Linked DNA regions of Homo sapiens. The main gene of each other region encodes a partner of the protein of the gene in region 2 in a complex. Each region holds a gene or a part of one and is shown on either strand. Other genes may lie near its edges. A codon is read from its position in the direction of its gene.

Evidence for each region.
Region 1: the proteins of MAD2L1 (region 2) and MAD2L1BP are in contact, whole or in part, in a crystal structure (PDB 2QYF), measured with the Homo sapiens proteins. Residues at the interface, in NP_002349.1 of Homo sapiens: Tyr33, Arg45, Thr52, Leu54, Lys122 (codon at 3,899), Asp126 (codon at 3,911), Glu127 (codon at 3,914), Arg129 (codon at 3,920), Ser130 (codon at 3,923), Arg133 (codon at 3,932), Gln134 (codon at 3,935), Thr136 (codon at 3,941), Ala137 (codon at 3,944), Thr138 (codon at 3,947), Thr140 (codon at 3,953), Phe141 (codon at 3,956), Leu142 (codon at 3,959), Leu144 (codon at 3,965), Glu179 (codon at 4,653), Val181 (codon at 4,659), Arg182 (codon at 4,662), Leu183 (codon at 4,665), Arg184 (codon at 4,668), Tyr199 (codon at 4,713), Asp205 (codon at 4,731); in NP_055443.1 of Homo sapiens: Pro61, His79, Tyr82, Gln83, Gln85, Pro88, Leu89, Pro90, Gln93, His96, Ala185 (codon at 2,058), Leu187 (codon at 2,064), Arg188 (codon at 2,067), Phe191 (codon at 2,076), Arg192 (codon at 2,079), Phe195 (codon at 2,088), Asp198 (codon at 2,097), Ala199 (codon at 2,100), Phe200 (codon at 2,103), Ser201 (codon at 2,106), Glu202 (codon at 2,109), Leu203 (codon at 2,112), Gln204 (codon at 2,115), Ala205 (codon at 2,118).
Region 3: the proteins of MAD2L1 (region 2) and MAD1L1 are in contact, whole or in part, in a crystal structure (PDB 1GO4), measured with the Homo sapiens proteins. Residues at the interface, in NP_002349.1 of Homo sapiens: Tyr38, Leu61, Tyr64, Asn67, Val68, Trp75 (codon at 2,761), Gln82 (codon at 2,782), Lys83 (codon at 2,785), Ser89 (codon at 2,803), Ile91 (codon at 2,809), Glu92 (codon at 2,812), Ser93 (codon at 2,815), Gly94 (codon at 2,818), Arg99 (codon at 2,833), Gln101 (codon at 2,839), Ser150 (codon at 4,566), Phe151 (codon at 4,569), Asp152 (codon at 4,572), Leu153 (codon at 4,575), Leu154 (codon at 4,578), Ile155 (codon at 4,581), Tyr156 (codon at 4,584), Thr157 (codon at 4,587), Asp158 (codon at 4,590), Lys159 (codon at 4,593), Asp160 (codon at 4,596), Leu161 (codon at 4,599), Val163 (codon at 4,605), Lys166 (codon at 4,614), Trp167 (codon at 4,617); in NP_001013858.1 of Homo sapiens: Glu527, Arg528, Ala530, Leu531, Gln532, Gly533, Asp534, Tyr535, Gln537, Ser538, Arg539, Thr540, Lys541, Val542, Leu543, His544, Met545, Ser546, Leu547, Asn548, Pro549, Thr550, Ala553, Arg554, Leu557.

The regions. Positions count from the first base shown.
Region 1 is NC_000006.12:43,638,204-43,642,488, forward strand, and holds the end of MAD2L1BP (MAD2L1-binding protein), read left to right. Parts: intron 1-1,817; coding exon 1,818-2,330; 3' UTR 2,331-2,738; downstream 2,739-4,285. UniProt on the Homo sapiens protein: May function to silence the spindle checkpoint and allow mitosis to proceed through anaphase by binding MAD2L1 after it has become dissociated from the MAD2L1-CDC20 complex.
Region 2 is NC_000004.12:120,056,171-120,064,853, reverse strand, and holds part of MAD2L1 (mitotic spindle assembly checkpoint protein MAD2A), read left to right. Parts: intron 1-2,758; coding exon 2,759-2,879; intron 2,880-3,876; coding exon 3,877-3,980; intron 3,981-4,563; coding exon 4,564-4,736; 3' UTR 4,737-8,683. UniProt on the Homo sapiens protein: Component of the spindle-assembly checkpoint that prevents the onset of anaphase until all chromosomes are properly aligned at the metaphase plate.
Region 3 is NC_000007.14:1,816,123-1,824,805, forward strand, and holds part of MAD1L1 (mitotic spindle assembly checkpoint protein MAD1), read right to left. Parts: intron 107-8,683; coding exon 1-106. UniProt on the Homo sapiens protein: Component of the spindle-assembly checkpoint that prevents the onset of anaphase until all chromosomes are properly aligned at the metaphase plate.

The DNA.
Region 1 (4,285 bases), on a different chromosome or scaffold from region 2:
GCTAATTTTTGTATTTTTAGTAGAGATGGAGTTTCACCATGTTGGCCAGGCTGGTCTCGAAGTCCTGACCTCAGGTTATCCACCTGCCTCAGCCTCCCAAAGTGTTGTTGGGATTACAGGTGTGAGCCACTGCGCCAGGCCATGAACTTCTTTTGCCTGAGGATATTAATTATTGAATTTTTAAGTTTTTCTTTGTTCCTTGCGGCATCTCAGTTTCTTCTAGAATCCATTCCCCATTTGTTTTGTTCTGGACTTTGACTTTCATGTTGGAGAGTTTTATTCTGTGTCTGGTGAATATTTAAGAATAAATTGGCCGGGCGCGGTGGCTCACGCCTGTAATCCCAACACTTTGGGAGGCTGAGGCAGGCGAATCACGAGGTCAGGAGATTGAGACCATCCTGGCTAACATGGTGAAACCCTGTCTCTACTAAAAATACAAAAAATTAGCCGGGCGTGGTGGTGGGCGCCTGTAGTCCCAGCTACTCGGGAGGCTGAGGCAGGAGAATGGTGTGAACCCGGGAGGCGGAGGTTGCAGTGAGCCGAGATTGCGCCACTGTACTCCAGCCTGGGCGAAAGAGCGAAACTCTGTCTCAAAAAAAAAAAAAAGAATAAATCATTGCAAGCTGTGTGTGCATGCCTGGGCCTTATGAGCTGATAGACTTCACTATAAGGAGATTAGGTGGGAACCTGGTGATCTCTTTGTGGGGATTGGAAAGTCTTCCCTCTGGATGGGGGAGAAATTTGGCAGATGATCTAAGCATCTTCACACAGATTTTCATTCATTTCCCCTATATTCACTCTTGCCTCTGTGGTGCCTGTATCACCACTTCCTAAACCTTTCTGGGGTTCTGCTGTGTGGATCAGTTTGCATCCCTTGGGGGTCCCTTCTGTCAGCACTTGGTATTCAGCTCTCTTGAACTCTTAACTCTTCATCTTCTTTCTTTTTTTTTTTTTGAGACAGAGTCTCGCTCTGTCACCCAGGCTAGAGTGCAGTGGCGTGATCTCAGCTCACTGCAAGCTCTGCCTCCTGGGTTCAGGCTATTCTCCTGCCTCAGCCTCCCTAGTAGCTGGGACTACAGGCATCCACCACCACACTCGGCTAATTTTTTGTATTTTTAGTAGAGACAGGGTTTCGCCATGTTAGCCAGGATGGTCTTGATCTCCTGACCTTGTGATCCGCCCGCCTCGGCCTCTCAAAGTGCTGGGATTACAGGCGTAAGCCACTGCGCCCAGCCAACTCTTCATCTTCTATCTTCCAAAACTTCTGTGTTTGCATTTGGCTAGTGTTGTGTAGTTTCCAGTTCTTTCCTCTTGGGAGTTTTCTTTGTCAGTCTTTCCTCTTCTTTCCTTCATTTGTTTCTTAATTTCTTTTCTCTCATTTTGTAATATTTCAGGTGGAAGTGCAAATAAGCATGTGTTCAGTTTACTATGTTTAAGTGGAAGAACAAGTTCAAAGTCATGTTTATTAGACCAAATAATCCTCATTCCTGTTATCACTCCCCATACAGCAAAAATTTGTTGTCACTTTGTCATGTCACCAAATTTCTATTTTAGTTGCTTATATCTGGATATCCTCCACCTTCAGAACACTGTGTTTGCTGTTCTAAATGTGGGAGAATTATGGTTTTGTACAAATAATATATTTTCCTTTTCAGTATAATACCCTCTGATAAAACACAGTGTTTTGGCTGTGGCGGTTCATTGAGCTAGAAATTAAGTCCTGTAAGTCTATGTACACATCCCAGCAGGGTTCTTTTCAAAGAGCATTAGCTTCCCCCTGCCTTGTTCTTCTCTCCCACCATTCTTTGTCCTCACAGGCAGAGGAGATGCTGAAGAAGAAACCTCGGGCCACCACTGAGGTGAGCAGCAGGAAATGCCAACAAGCCCTGGCAGAACTGGAGAGTGTCCTCAGCCACCTGGAGGACTTCTTTGCACGGACACTAGTACCGCGAGTGCTGATTCTCCTTGGGGGCAATGCCCTAAGCCCCAAGGAGTTCTATGAACTCGACTTGTCTCTGCTGGCCCCCTACAGCGTGGACCAGAGCCTGAGCACAGCAGCTTGTTTGCGCCGTCTCTTCCGAGCCATATTCATGGCTGATGCCTTTAGCGAGCTTCAGGCTCCTCCACTCATGGGCACCGTCGTCATGGCACAGGGACACCGCAACTGTGGAGAAGATTGGTTTCGACCCAAGCTCAACTATCGAGTGCCCAGCCGGGGCCATAAACTGACTGTGACCCTGTCATGTGGCAGACCTTCCATCCGAACCACGGCTTGGGAAGACTACATTTGGTTCCAGGCACCAGTGACATTTAAAGGCTTCCGCGAGTGAATGAGTGCTTCTTAATCCTAAAAACACAATGGCTGAATTATCTTTCTCCATGTGGCGCTGAATCACCCATCTGGTTTGGAGCTAGAGTTGCTTCCTGGTGAGAGAGGAAGCAACTCTCCTTCTGGTTGTCTGCCTCCCCTCAGATTTCCTGATAGGCTGATGGCATGTGGCTGTGACTGTGACTGTAATCATTGCTGAACAACATCTCTTTGAATCAAAGGTTGATTTTCCCAGAGGGTGCTGGGTCAGGCATTTCTATTAGGAGTTGGAAAGCAAAAATGGGTCCATAGACACTCTATGGAGGTGTCCCTTTCTGCTCTTTGCTGTGTCCTTTCAGAATTTTTACCAGGAACATAATGTGGATGTGACTTATGAACTTAAATATAAAATAAATAGATTCTTATTATATTTTCCTGAAATTGTTTTGACTTAACTTGTCAGGTTTTAGGCTATTTTGTCTTTCTCCTTGGCCTCTTCTGCTTCAGGGCTTCTCGAATTTTTTTTTTTTTTCTTTTTTCTTTTTTGAGATGGAGTCTCGCTGTATCGCCCAGGCTGGAGTACAGTGGCACAATCTTGGTCGCTGCAACCTCCACCTCCCAGGTTCAAGGAATTCTCCTGTCTTAGCCTCTCGAGTAGCTGAGATTGCAGGTGTGCACCACCACGCCCAGCTAATTTTTGTATTTTTAGTAGAGATGGAGTTTCACCATGTTGGCCAGGCTGGTCTCGAACTCCTGCCCTCAAGTGATCCACCTGTCTTGGCCTCCCAAAGTGCTGGGATTACAGGTGTGGGCCACCGTGCCTGGCCTTAGGATTTTTTTACTAATGATTTTTTCTCTTGTTCAGCCCCAGGCTAGTCTAGGAAATTAAGTGACTTGGCCAAGTGCATATGTAGTTTGATAGCAGAGTTAGGACTAGAGTCCTCATTAGCTATCTTTTAGCCAACGTGCTTTTCTTATCCCATACAGATTTTTGTGATGCTTAAATTCTGTATCCCCCAAAGCAGAGGTCACCTTTATGTGGGAAGATTGTGGTAAGGAACTTAGCTTAGCAGGCCATTGAATGAGAGCAGTGATTTTGGGAAATAGTCTGGCTAGGTGCTTGGTTTGTAGTAAACTGTGAGCAGGTGTGTGCTGAATAGTGAGAGGGGAGGAGCCTCTGTGCCTGGCCAAACACCTCAGTTTTTGGAAGCAAGTTGAAGACAGAATCCACACCTTGCTGATGTTCGGGATAGGTATATGTGTGTGTATGTATAATATATAAATGGTATGTATAGTCCAGGTGGGTGACTCATGCCTATAATCCCAGCACTTTGGGAGGCCAAGGTGGGCAGATCGCCTGAGGTCAGGAGGGAGACCAGCTGGCCAACATGGTGAAACCCCATCTCTACTAAAAATACACAAAAAAAGGCTGGGCATGGTAGCTCATGCCTGGCATCCCAGCACTTTGGGAGGCTGAGATGGGTGGATCACAAGTTCAGGAGTTCAAGACCAGCCTGACCAACATGGTGAAACCCTGTCTCTACTAAATATACAAAAATTAGCTGGGCTTAGTGGCGAGTGCCTGTAATCCAGCTACTTGGGGAGGCTGGGGCAGGAGAATTGCTTGAACCCGGGAGGCAGAGGTTGCAGTGAACCGAGATCACGCCACTGCACTCCAGCCTGGGCAACAGAGTGAGACCCGGTCTCAAAAAAAAAAAAAGAAAAAAGAAAAACAATTAGCCAGGCGTGGTTGTGGGCGCTTGTAATCCCAGCTACTTGGGAGGCTGAGGCAGGAGAATCACTTGAACCCGGGAGGCGGAGGTTACGGTGAGCTGAGATGGTGCCACTGCACTCCAGCCTGGGTTACAGAGAGACTCCATCTCAAAAAAAAAAAAAAAAGGTACATACGTACACATATGTACATAGAATAAGATACATATACGTACACCTAAAATATACTATTTTTAAAGTATATGT
Region 2 (8,683 bases):
CAGAAATGTGTCTTTTTTACCGTTTTTATTGCATTTTTACTAACCCATTTTTAATATGCCCTTCCAATGATGGCCATGTGAACTTTTTTAGCTTGGTAACTCTCTTTCAAGCTATACTATCCTCTAGATAAACTGTTAACATTGCCTTGCCATTTATGTGTACAGGAGGGGAATCCCACAACAACCTGTGGATGTCAGGTCTCAAATTAACAGGCAAGGGAAGATAGCCCTGTTGACATTTTGGCCTGGGTATTTCTTTGGTATGGGTGCTTTTCTTTGCTTTGGTGTGGGTGCTTTTCTGTGTGTTATAGAATGTTTACCAACAACTATGGCCTTTACTCACCAAATGCCAGTAACAAACCCCCTTGCTCTGACAACCAGAAATGCCTCCATGTATTATATTGCCAGATGTGCCCTAGGGGACAAAACTGCCCTTGGTTGAGAACTTCTGCTATAGTAGATTGGTATTGTCAAAATAGCAAGATGAGACCTCTTTTGGTGTGGGAATAGACCTCTGTTCTCAAGTGTACACAGGAAAGACACTGATAAGAGTGTCCACCTCTCCCAGAGTTGCATCCAAAATTGGGGGTCAGGAATAAATCATCTATAGTGATTCATAGGGCTGTACTCAGGTCGTTTGGCCTGGAACCTCTAGACAACTATGGATGTGTGTTTTTATCTTAATTTGCTGGAGAAGCAAGCATTGCCTAAGCCAATGGTTTTTAGGTTGTCTCCTTTGAGACTGCGTTAATGACATTTCACCTTATTTGTGTCTAGACCTTCCTATTTAACTTGTCCCTTTTATTTTAGTTAAAGTGGAAAAATTGCTCTTCCCTAGAGGCAAGTTGTTCGGTTTGTTTTTTGTTTGGAGTCTCACTCTGGCACCAAGGCTGGAGTGCAGTGGCGTGATCTCCGCTCACTGCAACCTCTGCCCCCACACCACAGCCTCCCGAGTAGCTGAGATTATAAGCGCCTGCCACCGTGCCTGGCTAATTTTTATATTTTTACTAGAGACAGGGTTTCACCATCTTGGCCAGGCTGGTGTCGAACTCCTGACCTCGTGATCCACCCACCTCTGCCTCCCAAAGTGCTGGGATTACAGGCATGAGTGGCTGCTCATGTTTTGTTTTGCTGGCCAATTGTTTTGTTTTGAATGTAATTTCCTCTAGCCTTTTTCAGGGTCTTTATCCTGTTCTCTCTTATATTTTCTGCTTCTGTGTTTTGATTTTAATTATCCCCATTGGTTTCATCTCTCCAGTTTTAAAGGAAGAGCAAATTACCACCCAGTCTCCTTTTCAGAGTGAAACTAATAAAAAGTTGTTGATAAATGCCAGGGATCACAAGGCCCACAGGCCACATCCAACAAGTGGCCTGTTTTTGCACTGCCCACAAGCTAAGAGTGTTTTTACACTTACAGGTTTGTTTAAAAATAAGCAACAGAGATCTTGGTGGCCAATAAGCCTAAAATATTTAGTAATTACTCTGTTTCTTTACAAAAACTTCGCTGACTCCTGAATATGCTGTTTCAATTTCCAAGATTACTTCAAGGCTCAATCTGAGCCCCCGTTCTGTGTTTATAATTTCTCTATAGGTGATCTCTGACCTGTGTATAGCTTCACTAACAACCTCTGTGTAGTCAGCTCACAAACTTACATCTATCCCAAGCCTCTTTCTCCAGACTCATATATCCAGCAGCTATATCTTTATGTAGCTATCCCAGAGACAATGTACACTCAAGTATACTAAAAACTAAATTTAGGATCATCTCCAAGACTGATACTCTTTAATTCTCTTTTTTTCTCTCAATGAATGACTAAACCGTCCAGCCAGAAATAAAAGAAACTTGGAAGCTGTCCCTGAATCATGCTTCTTCCTTACTATCGTGACTAAACCCAATACGTTTTAACCATGAAATCTCTTAAATCTACCTATTGCTCCATATCTACCAGTTTATCCTCCTACAAGCTTTCATTAACTCTTGCTTGAATTACTGATTGACTAACTAGTGTCTCTAGATCCCCTCTTTAACATCTCCAGTCCACTTTCCGTATCACGGCTAGAATGATAGTTTTGAAATACAAGTCTAATTGCTTTACATCCTGTTCACACACAGTAATGACTTCCCTGGTCTTGAAGTATATATTTTTTTAATTTGATCCACCAGGCTTTGCATGGTCTGGCTCCTGTTAATCTTGCAAGGATTACTTTGTTTTATTTTGTTTGTTTGTTTCTTGATTGCACTTGTAGTGGGCTGCTTCCAGCCCTCTATATGCTCTTCCCTTGGCAGTATTTGAGGCCTGTATCTTCTTTCGTATCCTTTTGCATATTTAATGCTGTTTATCCCTAGAGCTAAACTCAGACCTTTTCTGACCTCCCTGAGTGGCTCAAATTTTCCTTTTTTTATGCTCTCATTGCATCTTACATCTTTCTTTCATAGCAGCCATTACAATGATAATTTCTCATTTATTGGTGTGATGAGTAGATTAATGCCCATCTCCTATGCTTTTATGTTGGATTAGGATGAAACTACCACATGTTCAGTATTCTGTCCTCAGCACCAATTACTGTACCTGATACAGATACTGAGAATTTGAAAACAGAAGTTAGATTATTGATGGTGCAAATTTTCTTGCACATAGGAGGAGGTCCCAGATAGCAGTGGTAGGAATTTGCTGAGGATAGGGAGTGGGACCCGAGAAGAGAGCTACTTTATGATGCAGTGGACCAAGAAAGATGCCTTCCTTTTTATATGTTGCAGATTGGTTATACAAGTGTTCAGTTCAGAAACTGGTTGTAGTTATCTCAAATATTGAAAGTGGTGAGGTCCTGGAAAGATGGCAGTTTGATATTGAGTGTGACAAGACTGCAAAAGATGACAGGTAAATAGGAATTACATTATTTCTACTTTGATATATTTTTTTTCAAAACTTGTTTTTATTACTAATTGAGTTCTAATTGTATTGAACTAGTTTTATATAAAATATAGTTTGTTTCTAATTTATATTTTCTAAGATATCCTCAGTCACCTATGGAAAAGAATTGTGCTCAGTTTAGCATATCATTGATTTGTATATATAATATAATTTTAACATAATTGCCTTTAGTCTAAATCAGTAGTTTTCAAACAGTATTTATGGTGATATATACAAAACTACACATGATATACTAGATGAACCATTTAATAATTGTTCTAAGATATTTTTAACTATAAGGAATGATATTAGACTCACACAATTTAAGATGTAGCTCTGCTGTACTTCCTTTAATGCCATCTACTTCCTAAGACACTTCATAAATTTCTGAAGGTTCCAGACTCCCTGGAAGAGAAATGCATTGTCCTAGGCATGCTCTTCTATAAACTGAGAACCATTTCTTATAGTGAAATGTAGTTTGCTTCTGAAGGCTTTGGTGTATTTTAGGAAATTTTTAGCTTATAAAATAATTTGATATACAATTTAATGTTTTATTTGAGAAAATAGGAAATTAGACATTTAGGCATTACTAAAAATGCTGAAATGATTATACCAATACATATTTTAGATATCACTTATTTTTATTTCAAGAGATGCTGAAGTTTCCTGAACTTGAAGTGATTGGCAAATTTTCTAGTCATCTGATACTAAATGACCTGACACTAAGACCAGCTCTAAAAGATGACTGGCAGGATAAATGAAGTAATAAGGATGAATGTTGTGCCTACTAGGTTGTAGGTCTGAAGGATACTTTCACTCACATTTTTTACAAACCTCCTTTCTCAAATAAGCCCTGCTTATTTGATGTTGAGAGCATTTAATCAGATAAATAATCTAACCACTATGTTTGAAATAATTTGTTAAGACCTGAAATGAATTAATTGATTTGATTTTTTTTTGACAGTGCACCCAGAGAAAAGTCTCAGAAAGCTATCCAGGATGAAATCCGTTCAGTGATCAGACAGATCACAGCTACGGTGACATTTCTGCCACTGTTGGAAGTTTCTTGTAAGTATTATACAACTTCTTGTTGAATTAAATTGATTGGCAAAAAGACTAAGCTACTGCCGTAATCACCCCTTTATTAAATTTTGTCTTATTTATCAGATTTATGTAATATAAATTGAAGGAAAAACATTATCATGCAAAAGTAATGTATCGTAGTCTCCCTTTCCACAGGGAGACCCACAGTGAATACCTGAAACCATGGATAGTATGAACCCTATATAATGTTTTTTTCTTATGCATACATACCTATGATAAAATTTAATATGTAAATTAAGCATAGTAAGAGTTAATAATAAACTGGAACAATTATAACAATATGCTGGCATCACTATTCTTGTGCTTTGGGACCATTATTAAATAAGATAAGGGTTACTTGAACACAATCACTAAATTGCACGGAAGTTAGATACAATATTTTCTTTACTGAAATAAATGTTCATTGAGCAAAATAAATTAACTAGTGATTGGAGACCAAGCCAAATGACCTTTTCCAGCAGTGAGTGGTTCAAAATAGAAGAGAGGCAGCAAGATTAGTTTTACTTTTAGAAAATAATATACTTCAATGATCTTATCCCCAATTTAGGTTCATTTGATCTGCTGATTTATACAGACAAAGATTTGGTTGTACCTGAAAAATGGGAAGAGTCGGGACCACAGTTTATTACCAATTCTGAGGAAGTCCGCCTTCGTTCATTTACTACTACAATCCACAAAGTAAATAGCATGGTGGCCTACAAAATTCCTGTCAATGACTGAGGATGACATGAGGAAAATAATGTAATTGTAATTTTGAAATGTGGTTTTCCTGAAATCAAGTCATCTATAGTTGATATGTTTTATTTCATTGGTTAATTTTTACATGGAGAAAACCAAAATGATACTTACTGAACTGTGTGTAATTGTTCCTTTTATTTTTTTGGTACCTATTTGACTTACCATGGAGTTAACATCATGAATTTATTGCACATTGTTCAAAAGGAACCAGGAGGTTTTTTTGTCAACATTGTGATGTATATTCCTTTGAAGATAGTAACTGTAGATGGAAAAACTTGTGCTATAAAGCTAGATGCTTTCCTAAATCAGATGTTTTGGTCAAGTAGTTTGACTCAGTATAGGTAGGGAGATATTTAAGTATAAAATACAACAAAGGAAGTCTAAATATTCAGAATCTTTGTTAAGGTCCTGAAAGTAACTCATAATCTATAAACAATGAAATATTGCTGTATAGCTCCTTTTGACCTTCATTTCATGTATAGTTTTCCCTATTGAATCAGTTTCCAATTATTTGACTTTAATTTATGTAACTTGAACCTATGAAGCAATGGATATTTGTACTGTTTAATGTTCTGTGATACAGAACTCTTAAAAATGTTTTTTCATGTGTTTTATAAAATCAAGTTTTAAGTGAAAGTGAGGAAATAAAGTTAAGTTTGTTTTAAATTTGTCTTAAAACATTTTGATACTGGTTTGGTGTTGATATAGTTAAATGGTAATTAGAATTGATTCAGCATAGCTAATGAATTCTTGTTCCTACGAAGTTATAGAACTTAAGGGTCCAAAGTTGAGTGAGTCTTGAGGTGTCTTCAATCTAATGGATAAACTTTGATCACATCCTGTTCATCTCATAGCAATAGACTTAAGGCTATTACTTCATCATTGTGAAAAGATAAATGTCCTTTGGAATTAGTCCAACAATTCCAGTTGAACAAGTGTTGATTTTAGTACTTTACTATACTCTTAGCCTTATTGTCAGCCTACTTTTCCTTATATACTTAAATACTATGCTTATTCCTGTGCTTTCATTAATACCCTCATCTGGTACATGCTTTCTATCCAGTTCTCACCTGTTTTTCCAAGGTCAGTTTAAGGCAGATTTGTAAAGTCTTCTCTAATCTCTAATCTAAATCTGACCTCATTTTGTAAAAATTCAGTTTATTAATGTTTATTATTAGACACTAAGTTCTTTATGTGTATTAACTTATTTAACCTTCACTATTTTTAAGTAATTGCACATAGTCTGAATCTGTTCATTCAGAAATTACATATTGAGCAAATACTGTGGATCAGTGGCAGTTTCTGGGTTCTCAGTGACAAATTTGTAGACTCTTCATATCTTTATGGAATAAGTGGACCACTGGTGTTACCAACCTAGATGATTTCAAGAAAAGTGGCAATTAAATGCTTCATTTGTATTTTAACTATTTGAGAAGTCAGACTAAATTCTGCGAAATCACTTTTCCCCCCCAAGATGGAGTCTTATTCTGTCGCCCAGGCTGGAGTACAGTGACGCAGCTCAGCTCACTACAGCCTCTGCCTCCCGGATTCCAGCCATTCTTCCGTCTCAGCCTCCTGAGTAGCTGGGATTACAGGCACGTGCCACCACACCTGGCTAATTTTTATATTTTTAGTAGAGAGAGGGTTTCACCATGTTGGCCAGGCTAGTCTTGAACTCCTGACCTCATGATCTGCCCGCCTTGACCTCACAAAGCATTGGGATTACAGGCGTGAGCCACTGCGCCCGGCTGAAATCACATTTTTAAAGGTTGTGTGTATACTCTGGTCATTTCAACTCAGCTACCAATATTAACAGGATTAAATTCTTAGATTTTTGTATCATTTGCATGCTACTATTTACTCTGAGGTTTCTGGAGAGCTAGTCATGATGAGTCATTTTACCCCTTACAGATTATATAATCAATTAAGAAATACACATTTTGGGCTGGGCGCAGTGGCTCGCGCCTGTAATCCCAGCACTTTGGGAGGCCGAGGCAGGTGGATCACGAGATCAGGAGTTTGAGACCAGCCTGGCCAAGATGGTCAAACCCCGTCTCTACTAAAAATATAAAAATTAGCTGGGCGTGGTGGCGGGCGCATCTCAGCTACTTGGGAGGCTGAGGCAGGAGAAATCGCTTGAACCCATGAGGTGGAGGTTGCGGTGAGCCAAGACCGTGCCACTGTACTCTAGCCTGGGCGACAGAGCAAGGCTCCATCTCAAAAAATAATAAATAAAAAAGAAATACACATTTTGGAGCTGAGTGGGAGCCAAACTATGAGTTTTATTGAGGTGAAGCTATACTGGAAAAGCTTTGCCCTGTAGCTCCAAGTGGACTGTCCCATCCTCTTTCTAGACCTTGAGGCTTACCTCAGGAGGATGATGTTTAAATCAACAGCTGAAAGACTTGTGAGTGGTTTCTACACCATGTTAAAGAGAAGGTTCTAAGACAGCATGATAGGCCTCTAGGCCTGGCCTGGACTCTGGCTCAGTGTTGCTTACCATATGTAGAGGATGAACAGAGGTTAAGCCCATCAAGGTCTGAAGTAGAGCCCAGGAGGAACTGAACTGTATCTGGCTTTCAGGATCCTTTTCCCAGTGTCATCAATCAGAGAAGTCAAACCTCTGTGAGAATGCTTGTGCAGAGGTATAACAGTCTCATGTATTGGTTGGCTTTTGCTGCACCTTTCTCATTCTGTTGGAGGGACATTGGTTAGTCAGGACTCTGAAGGCCAGCTTTTTCACACTGACCAAAGCAAGTGAAGGTCAAGCCTAACTTTAATGGGACCAGGAAGTATACTCCTCCCATGGAGGTGGTGGGAATGGCACCGAGAAGTTTGATGACAGTTATCTAATGGACTAGAGGTTGGCAAACTTTCTGTAAATGGCCAGGTAGTAAATAGTTCTGCTTTTGAAGGCATATGGTCTCTTGCACCTACTCGAGGCTGAAAGCAGCTATAGACAATACATAAATGAATGAGCGTGAGTGTGTTCCAATAAGAAAAAAACATGGCTGTTTGCTTCGGCCCCAGGGTTGTAGCTTACCAGTCCTGTAACAGATCACAGTTTGCTCTTTTGGTCACAAATACTTGAACCCCTCCCTAGTTCAGAGCATTTGATACCGTAATATTTAAAGCTCACTTGTAAAACATCGTTTGTTGCCTCCATCCATAGTATCTCAAACAGAATGTCTCTCCCAAATATACCTAAATTCCATATTCTCTGAAGCACAACCAGCTATTTTCTTGACATACTTCCTAACACACCCCACAGTTCACAATTTGATCTGAAAACTTGTTAAGGGAGGTTCTTTGGCATGTGATGCCATAAAAAGAGAGGTATGGGCTCTCCTTTAAAAAAGAGACCCTTTTTATGAGACTCACAATAGGATAAAGAGCCCATGCCTATTTTTAATCATTTTTTCACTATATAGACATGCATGCTGAAAAATGTTTTTATTAGTATAATGCTAATTATACTGACTTCCTATATATTTTAGCATATAGATTCAAAGATTATTAGCACAATAAGGTAGATAACTTCATAGACCATTTCTTCATCTTGTTTTCATTTAGTATGTAAAATTTATCTAAAATTTACATGAAAGATCAGAATAGCTATGTAATGCTACTTTGTAACTCTTATATTTTCCACCAGATGTCACTAATGCTGTAATATTCAAATTAAGATGACTTTCTTTTGGTTCTAAAGGCTGTAAGCTTATTGGAAAAGCAAGGTTACTCAGCATTGGAATTCCTGGCAACAAATATATAAATACATTAGGGGAATAAACACTTAGCATTTATTATTTACTAGTCACTTCACATGAATTTTTATTTAATTCTCATGCTTTTGTGCACAAGTAAAACTGGGGGTCAATGGGCATGCAAATTGTGTCGTGGTTTTTGAAGTTTAGTGGTCTCTCCTATCC
Region 3 (8,683 bases), on a different chromosome or scaffold from region 2:
CAGGGATGCTGTCCTGGCGCCGCAGGTGCACCTCGATGAGCTCGCCCACGGTGTGTGAGAACTCTGTCTCCAGTAGCTGCATCTTGGAACCCGAGGGGCTGGTGGCCTGCGGGGCAGTCAAGAAAGAGACAAGACAGCGGTCAGCCCGACAGGCCTCTCCCTCTCCCCTCCCTCCCTACACAGCCCCTCCAGCCATGGGGGCTTCCCTCAGTCTGAGGACCTGGACAGGGGTAGATGCGTCCTCAACCCTGCCAGGCCTTATTCCAGGTCACCTAAAGGGACTGAATTAACCCAGGGCAAGGTCTCTGTTGTCTACACTGTCATCTACCCAGGCAGTTGGGGGTCCCAGGCACTGTGGGGTGTGCCCACCCAAGGGGCTGCCACCTTGCTCCTTCCTCCACCTGGGGGGCTCCAGCACCTGTGCCAGGCCCTAGTGCCACTCTTCACTGAGGCTGGAGGACCCCACGCCCTGGGCAAGTCCTGCAACGCCTTCCACACTGCCTGGGCCCCATGACCTAGTTTCCCCACTTGTGCAGGGGGGCGCTGGGGGCCCAGGGGGAGTCTGGCTCTGTGGATTCTGCAGCCCAGAGGGCGGCCTCCTGTAACTGGAGAACGGGCAAGGAGGAGCTTCCAGACAGCGCTGCAGGCCCCAGGGGACACAGGGCAGGAGTCACACAGCAGGTCTGAGCAAGCTGCTGTGCCACGGTCCTGGGCTGTGTGGGGAGTGGACAGAGGCCCTTCTGAGCTGCCCCCGAGAGCCAGCCCCACCCCGGTCAGCACCCACACAGCCCCAGGTCAGGCAGGACACAAACCCGGCCCACCACAAAGCTCCCTCTGAAACCACGTCCCTGAAAAGTCCTGTACCCAGAATATGCCCAGAACTCCCACAACTCCACCATGAAGAGGAAAGAGCCAATTAAACAAGGGGCCCTTGAACATTTCTCCAGAGAAGAGCCACACACGGCCAATGAGCTCATGCCAGGACGCTGGGCACCGGGGAAACGTGAACCGCAACTGAGCGAGACACGGAGCCGCCTCGCGCCGACGGCCACTGAGAGCAACCACCATGAGCTGCTGGGTCGAGGGGAATCAGACCCTCCGCGTCGCTGGCGGGAGCGTGTGTGGTGCGGCCACTGCAAACAGCCGGCAGCTCCTCAAAGAGCTGGACGCAGAGTCCATGGGCCCAGCACCCGCCCGGGCGCGCAGCCAGGGGGTCTGAGCGCAGTCCACGCACAGACCTCGGCACGGGTGTCCACGGCAACACGATCCCATCACCAACAGATGGAACGCGGAACCAGCCCTCAACCGCCGGAGGGAGACACAAAACCGGGTTTACCCGTCAACACCGCTTCGTACAGCCGAACTCTGATACACGCTGCCACGCGGGCAAACCCCGAAAACACGCCCAGCCAGTCACAGAGACCTGTCGACACAACTCCGTGCCCAGGGGATGTCCTGGAGGGGCACGTCAGGGCTCAGGGCCAGTGGAAATGTGCCACGGTTAGACTGGTCGCGGCTGCGCACTGAATGTGCCGGGAGGAACGGAACGGTAGACTAATGGAGCGCTAGACGTGAGGGTGAGCTGCATGTGTGTGCATCGGAGCTCAGGAAACCGTTTTGGAAAGCGCTCCCTCCGCCCGGCAGCCCTCTGGGAACCCTCCCCAGGAGCCACAGGGCGGCCTGGCTCCATCCAGCTTGGTCCTGGCAGCTCCCCTGTCCACCGGAGCATGCCTGGGCTGGGCCCCGCCCTGATGGTGTCGCCCCTCCCCTCACCACCTTTGGAGCACGTGCTGCCCCAGAGGCCCTGCGACCTGACCTGTTCCTGCACCTCCTGTTTCTCAGGAGCCGTCCCCGTGCCCTCCCCCTGCCCTCCCCCTGTTTCTGCTGCCTTAGTACATTTGGCCTTGTCATAGTTCAACACAAACCATTTTTAAACAAAAACAAGAGAAACCACTCTGACCTTTCGCTGAGAAAATCCTTTCACTTCTGCCTTCTGCTCTTGATTCTGAATTTCTCCCCCTAAATGTCAGAGGGGCTGATTCTCCTGCAGCTGCCGGGCAGGGGTGGGGAGGCAGTGTGGGAAGAAGTCTCCTCAGCCGGCCCTTCGCCCTCCTCCCAACCCAGGGCTGGCAACCTGGCTGGGCCTGACGCACTGTGGTGCAGACTCTGGCCAGGCTGGACCAGAGAATAGCTGTTTTCCAGGCACCCGCCTTCCCCGGCCCTCAGAGGCTGGCAGGCTTTGGGAGCCTGGCCGTTCATTTCTAAAAATATTTTTTTTTAGAGACGAGTCTCACTCTGTCACCCAGGCTGGAGTGCAGTGGCATGATAACGGGTCACTCAGCCTCGAGCTCCCGGACTCAAGTGATCCACCTCAGCCTCCTGAGCAGTTGGAATGACAGGCATGTGCCAGCACACCTGGCTAATTTTTAAATTTTTTTGAGAGATAGATAGACTTTAGCTATTTTGCCCAGGCTGGTCTCAAACTCCTGGCCTGGCTGGTCTCAAACTCCTGGCCTGACGTGATCCTCCTGCCTCAGCTGCCCACGACGTGAGGATTACAGGCGTGAGCTCTGATCATTCTTTATTTGAAACAGGTGCACCCCGCCAGCGTCAGCAAGACAGCTGCTCCCAATGGTAGGCCGGGCAACCCACTCACGGCTCCTACAGCACCTCCTCTCTGCCGGCCTCAGGCGGCTCTGGAAGAATGATGCCCTAATATACCGCGCTGCCCTCCAGGTGGGGGTGGGGGTGGACGGAGACAGGCAGGAGTAACCAGTGCTACTCTCCCAGCTCAAACCCCACACGAAGGCAGACCCAGCGTTTGCAAAACACCAGCCCCCGGTGAACAAGTCGACCTGCTGTGCAGCCCACCTCTGACTCCGTTTCCCCCAGCGTACCCAGCCACATTGGGAGGCTCCACCTCGGTCTAACGCTCCGGCATTAGCAGGACCTGCTGAATGAGTGGCGCCGGGCCCATCCATCTCTGCCATCGCTGCTCAGCCCTCTGCCATGTTCAAATATCACACAGTCCCCAGGTACCTCGTAAATCACTGTAATTACGGGCTGCTCACTTAAAATTAAACTGCAATTTTTTAAAAAGCAAATTGCCAGTAAGACACGTTGGCTGTGGCTGGAAATACTTCTGAGGCTGCCTGCGCGCAGGCTCTGGCTTCCTCTCCCTCTGCCTGGCCGGCCCGAGCTGCCACCTGTCTAGTCTGCGCACATAGCGGCCCTGTGGCTGGCGGGCGCCCTGGGGGAGACTGAGACACTCACTCTTAATGAAGACACTCGCGGCGTCCATTGTGGCCACTGCACTCTAGTCCAGACCCTCGCTGGCCTGGCCTGGGGCTCACCTGCCCCTCTGGAAGCAGAGAGGGCCTGCCCTGGAGGGCCGGGGACCTCTGCAGCATGTCCGTGGAACACGTGGGCCAGGGATTGTGTGCCCGGCCCCCATTCCAGCTCTGCCACGTGAGCAGTGCTCACTCGGTGCCTAGGGCTGACTAGTCTTACTAAGCGCTGGTCCCACCATCCCCTGAGCCGAGCCCCATGGTGTCCCAGCGGGCACGGACAAGAGGCACGGAGTGAGGGAGGGGTGGGGGCTGACAAAGGGCTTGGAGAGCAGAGACAGCGCACACCACCAACTCTCTCCACACACCACTTTCTCCACACACCACCAACCGCAGGATGTGGTGGGGCTCGGAGGCCAAGGGGGAAGTGTGAGGGATTCCTGTCAAGAACAAGACCCCCTGCTGCTGAGGGTCCAAGAGAAACTCCATGAACTGGGAAACTCGAGGGGAGGAAGCTAGAGATGGAATGAAGGAAGCCCTGAATCCTGGCTCAAACAAGGAAAGCTGAAATAATGCAGTAAAATGAGAAGACACGCAGGAAATGGAAACGATGCTACTTCGAGATACTGGGAAGTTATGTGAATGCTGTTCATCTGTGGGGTGGCGTGAAGAGGTGGAGGCCACACCAGTGGACATCAAAACCAGAAACCAGTCAGAGAAAGACAACAGGAAAACTGTAAGTGCCTGGAAATTAAACAGCACACTTCTAAGTAATCCACGAGTCAAATGGGATGCCTCGAAGGAAATAAAAAAGAGAACAGAATGGAAACAAGAATACAGCATAATGAAATTTGCCAGACGCACCCAAGGCAGTGCTTAGAGGGAAACGGACAGCACTCAATGCCTGTATCAGGAAAGGAGAAAGATCTCAAATCGCTTCTCTAAATTCCTACTTCAAGAAACGAAGGGAAAAACAAGCCCGAAGCAGGAGGAGGAAATAATACAAGTAGGAATGAACAGGAAAACAAAAGTTATTAAAACCAAAAACTGCTTCTTTAAAAAATAGCAATAAGGCCGGCCAGGAGCAGGGCTCACACCTGTAATCTTTGCACTTTGGGAGGCCAAGGTGAGAGGATCACTTGAGCCCTGGAGTTTGAGACCAGCCTGGACAACACAGTGAGACCCCATCCCTATAATCAATCAGCCAGGTGTGGTGGCATACACCTGTAGCCCCAGGTATGTGGGATCACGTGGGCCTAGGAGTTTGAGGCTGTAGTGAGCTATGATCACACCACTGCACTCCAGCCTGGGCAACAGAGTGAAACCCTGTCTCAAAAATTTGTTAGAAAGACCAGCAACGATAAATTGATAAACCCCTGGCAAAACTGACAAAGATTAAAAAGGGGGAACGCCTGTAATCCCAGCACTTTGGGAGGCCGAGGTGGGCGGATCACGAGGTCAGGAGATCAAGACCATCCTGGCTAACACAGTGAAACCCCATCTCTACTAAAAATACAAAAAATTAGCCGGGTGTGGTGGCGGGTGCCTGTAGTCCCAGCTCCTTGGGAGGCTGAGGCAGGAGAATGGCATGAACCCAGGAGGCGGAGCTTGCAGTGAGCCGAGATCGTGCCACTGCACTCCAGCCTGAGCAACACAGCGAGACTCCATCTCAAAAAAAAAAAAAGGGGGGGGGGAGAGTGAAATGACCAATATCAGAAATGAAATGGAAATATTATAATAGATCCAGAAGCTATTAAAATAACAATAAAAAATACTACAACAAAACTTGATGCTCATAACAAACTGGATGGATTCCTCGAAAACCACATACTACCAAAACGTGCCAAGATAAAATAGCCTCGGTAGTCCTATAACCATTAAATAAATCAAGTTTGTTCTAATTAAAATGCTACTCAAAATCTCCAGTCCCAGATGGTTTCACTAGAAAGTTTTACCGAACATTAAATATGAATTAATACCAATTTTACACAATCCTTTTTCAGTTAACAAAAGACAGAGAAACACCTTTCCACTATGAACCCTGTACTGAAACCAACAAGGATGGTGCGCACACAAAGAAAAATAAGTATCAGTCTCTCATGAGCTTAGCTGCAAAAATACTCAACAAGGACTAACAAATGGAATCCAGCAACACACGAAAAAGAGTATCACACCCTGACCAAGTGGGATTCAGTTTAGGTGTACAACGACGGCTAGTTCAAATTTGAAAATCAATCAATGTTATCCACCCTATCAACAGGCTAAAGGAAGACAATGATATGATCCTATTGGCACAGGCAAAGCATTTGAAAAAATTTAATCTCCATTCCTGACAAGAACTCTTGCAAAGCAGGAATCAAGGGAAAGTCCTCCGACTTGGTAAAAAGCACCACGAAGAACCCTCAGCTCACGCTGCTTCACGGAAGAGTCTGGCCGCCTTCCCTCATTCGGTCAGCGGAGAGCTGGCTTTCCCCACTCATCCTCAACCCAGCATGGGAGCTCCTCACGCCAGGGCATGCAGGTAAGAAAAGGAAAGCAGCAGCATAGGGATTGGAAAAGAACAGAACTGTCCCTACTCGGAAATCACATGACGGCACACGTGGAAAACCCTAAGCAATCTGCAGAAAACTCCTAGAATGACGTGACGGCCCACGTGGAAAATCCTGAGCAATCTGCAGAAAACTCCTGGAACACTAAGTGAGTCCACGAAGGTTGCAGGAAATAAGATGAACATACAAAAATTAACCACATTTCTATAAAGCAATTGCAAACAAGTGAAAAACAAAATTAAAAGGCAATATAATTTACAGAACATCTTAAATACTCGGGTATACATCTAACAAAAACTTGTATAGTGTCTGTTTGCAGAAAGTTAGGAAATACTGATGAAAGGAATCGAAAGGAATAAAAAGAATGTTTGTATAAATAGATACAATGTTTATGAACTGGAAGACTTATAGTAAATCAATTTTTCCAAAATTGATCTTTGGTTTTAAGGTAATTGCTGTCCAAACCTCAGCATATATATATATATTTTTTTTTTTTTTTTGGAAAGAGGGTCTTATTCTGTCACCCAGGCTGGAGTGCAGTGGTGTGGTCTTGGCTCACTGCAGCCTCAGGCAATCTTCCTGCCTCAACGTGCCAAGTAGCTGTAACTACAGGTGCGCACCACCACTCATGGCTGTATTTTTTTCATAGAGATGGGGTCTCCCTGTGTTGCCCAGGCTGGTCTCCCAACTCCTGGGCTCAAGCGATCCTTTTGCCTTGGCTTCCCCAAGTGTTGGGATTACAGGCGTGAGCCACCATGCCCGGCCAGCATTTTTTTTTTTTTTTTTTGGTAGAGAGACACAAGATTATTCTAAAATGTATATAGAAAGCAATTCCAAAAAAGAAGAGTAGAGGAATTGCCCTTCCTGATGTTGAGAACCGTACAGCTACAGCACAGCGTTATACGGCTCCTACGTCAGACAGACATGGCTGGGGCAGCGCTGGAGGGGAGATGTGGAGACCAGCAGAACAGAACAGAGGAACTCGAAAGAGACCCACAGACGCGTCCAGGCCACTTTCTAACAGAGAATATTATGCCGTGACCAAGTGGGACTTCGTTTAGGTGTACGAGGCTAGCTTGGTATTTGAAAATCAATCAATGTAATCTGCTATATCAACAGGCTAAAGAATAAACAACATATGACCCTATTAATCGATACGGAAAAGTCACAGAAAAGTCACAAAGGCGCTTCAGTGGAGGAAGGGCAGCCTTGTCTTTGCTACAGCTGGAGCCGGAGGAGCTGGACACACTTAGTTAAAAAAAAATTTTTTTGACCGAAACCTCACATCTCAAATAAAATTTAACTCAAACTGTATCACGAACTTACATGTAAAACACAGAATTATGTTAAAAAAGAAATCTTCAGGATCTGGATGAGGCAGAGCTCTGACACTCAACACCAAAGCACAATCCACAGAATAAAATTAAAATGGATAAATGGGCCTCGCCAAAATTTTAGGAAATTGCACAGTGGAAGAGCCTGTGAAGCAGATACAAGGATAAGCTACACGACAGGGCGCCAGCGTCTCCCTGCCCATCTCTCCTAGAACGCCACGGCCACAGGGGACCCTGGCACCTGGAGGGGTGACTGCAGCGTCTTAACCCCAAGTGGGATTCCTGCCTGTGCCCTGGCCCCACAGGGCAAGGCCCACATCTGTCTTGCTTCTCTCTTTTCCCAGAACAGACCTCACCAGGCTGGAGAGTGGCCTGGGCACAGAGGCCGGGCCTGTGGCATCAGCGGCCATCGTGAGGGCAGAGCGCCCAGGCATTCTCAGACACACCCCTGCTCCCACTGGCCTTCCTGGGAGAAGCACCCCCTTGTTCCAGATGAGAAGCCGCAGCTGCTGGGCCGGGGGAGGCATGAATATTTCATGCTTGGATCTGCAAGCGCCACGCACCTAACTGGACACAGCTCCAGGCGCCTGCTTCCCTGAAGCCCAATCCTCCTGTCATTGGTGTGCTGCAAGCGCCGCTCCGGAGCAGGGCTCTGTGTGGGGAGAGGAAAGGAGCCCTCGGGGGAAGTTATGCTGGGAGCCCATTTGTGGGGGGACGGAGAGCGGGAAGCAAGGTCCATGAGGATGGGGTGTCCTGCAGCTGGGTCCTGACCGGGGGCTGCTCCCTCTCCTGGGCCTAGGCACTGCAGGAAAATGGCAGGTAGTCAGCCTGCCACCACCTCCCGGCCACCAGCACACACCCTCAACAGACCTTCCAGATAGACGGCTCAATCCTGACTTGAGCACTGCCGGCCCCAACGCCTCCCCTCTTACACCACCTGCTTGTGCGGGCCTGGTGGCAGAGCTGCCGACATCGGGGGCTTTCGCACCCACCAGAACTAGCTTCTAACCTCGGCTTGGCCACCAGGAAGCTGCGTGACCCTGGGCACACCGACACACCTCTCTTGAGCCTGGTCTGCACGCTGGGCATTGCCGAGAAGACTAACGAAGTCAGGTGCGTAAAATCACCGGGCTCAGGGGAGACACAGAGCACAGTGGGATGAGGAAACCCTGTGCCCACGTTACCCCGGGCCATGAGGACAGCAGCTGCCCCGTGCCCTGGCGCCATCGGATGGCCTCTACTGGGAAGTGAGCTGCTCCCGGCCTTGTCCCCACCTCGCTGCAGCAGGACTGGTTGTCTGCCAGGCCCCGGAGCCCCCAGGCTTCCCACAGAGGCTCCCCCACCAGGACCCGCGGGAGAGGAGAGGGGCGTGCCTGGATGGCATCTGCCGGGGCAGCCATAGGTCCCTGTGAACCTCGCTTGTAGAATACACCTGCTCTCAAAGCCAGCGAAGGGGAGATTTTTTTTTGTCTTGAGGCTGTCAGGAAATCAAAGTGTTTTCAACTTCAAAAGA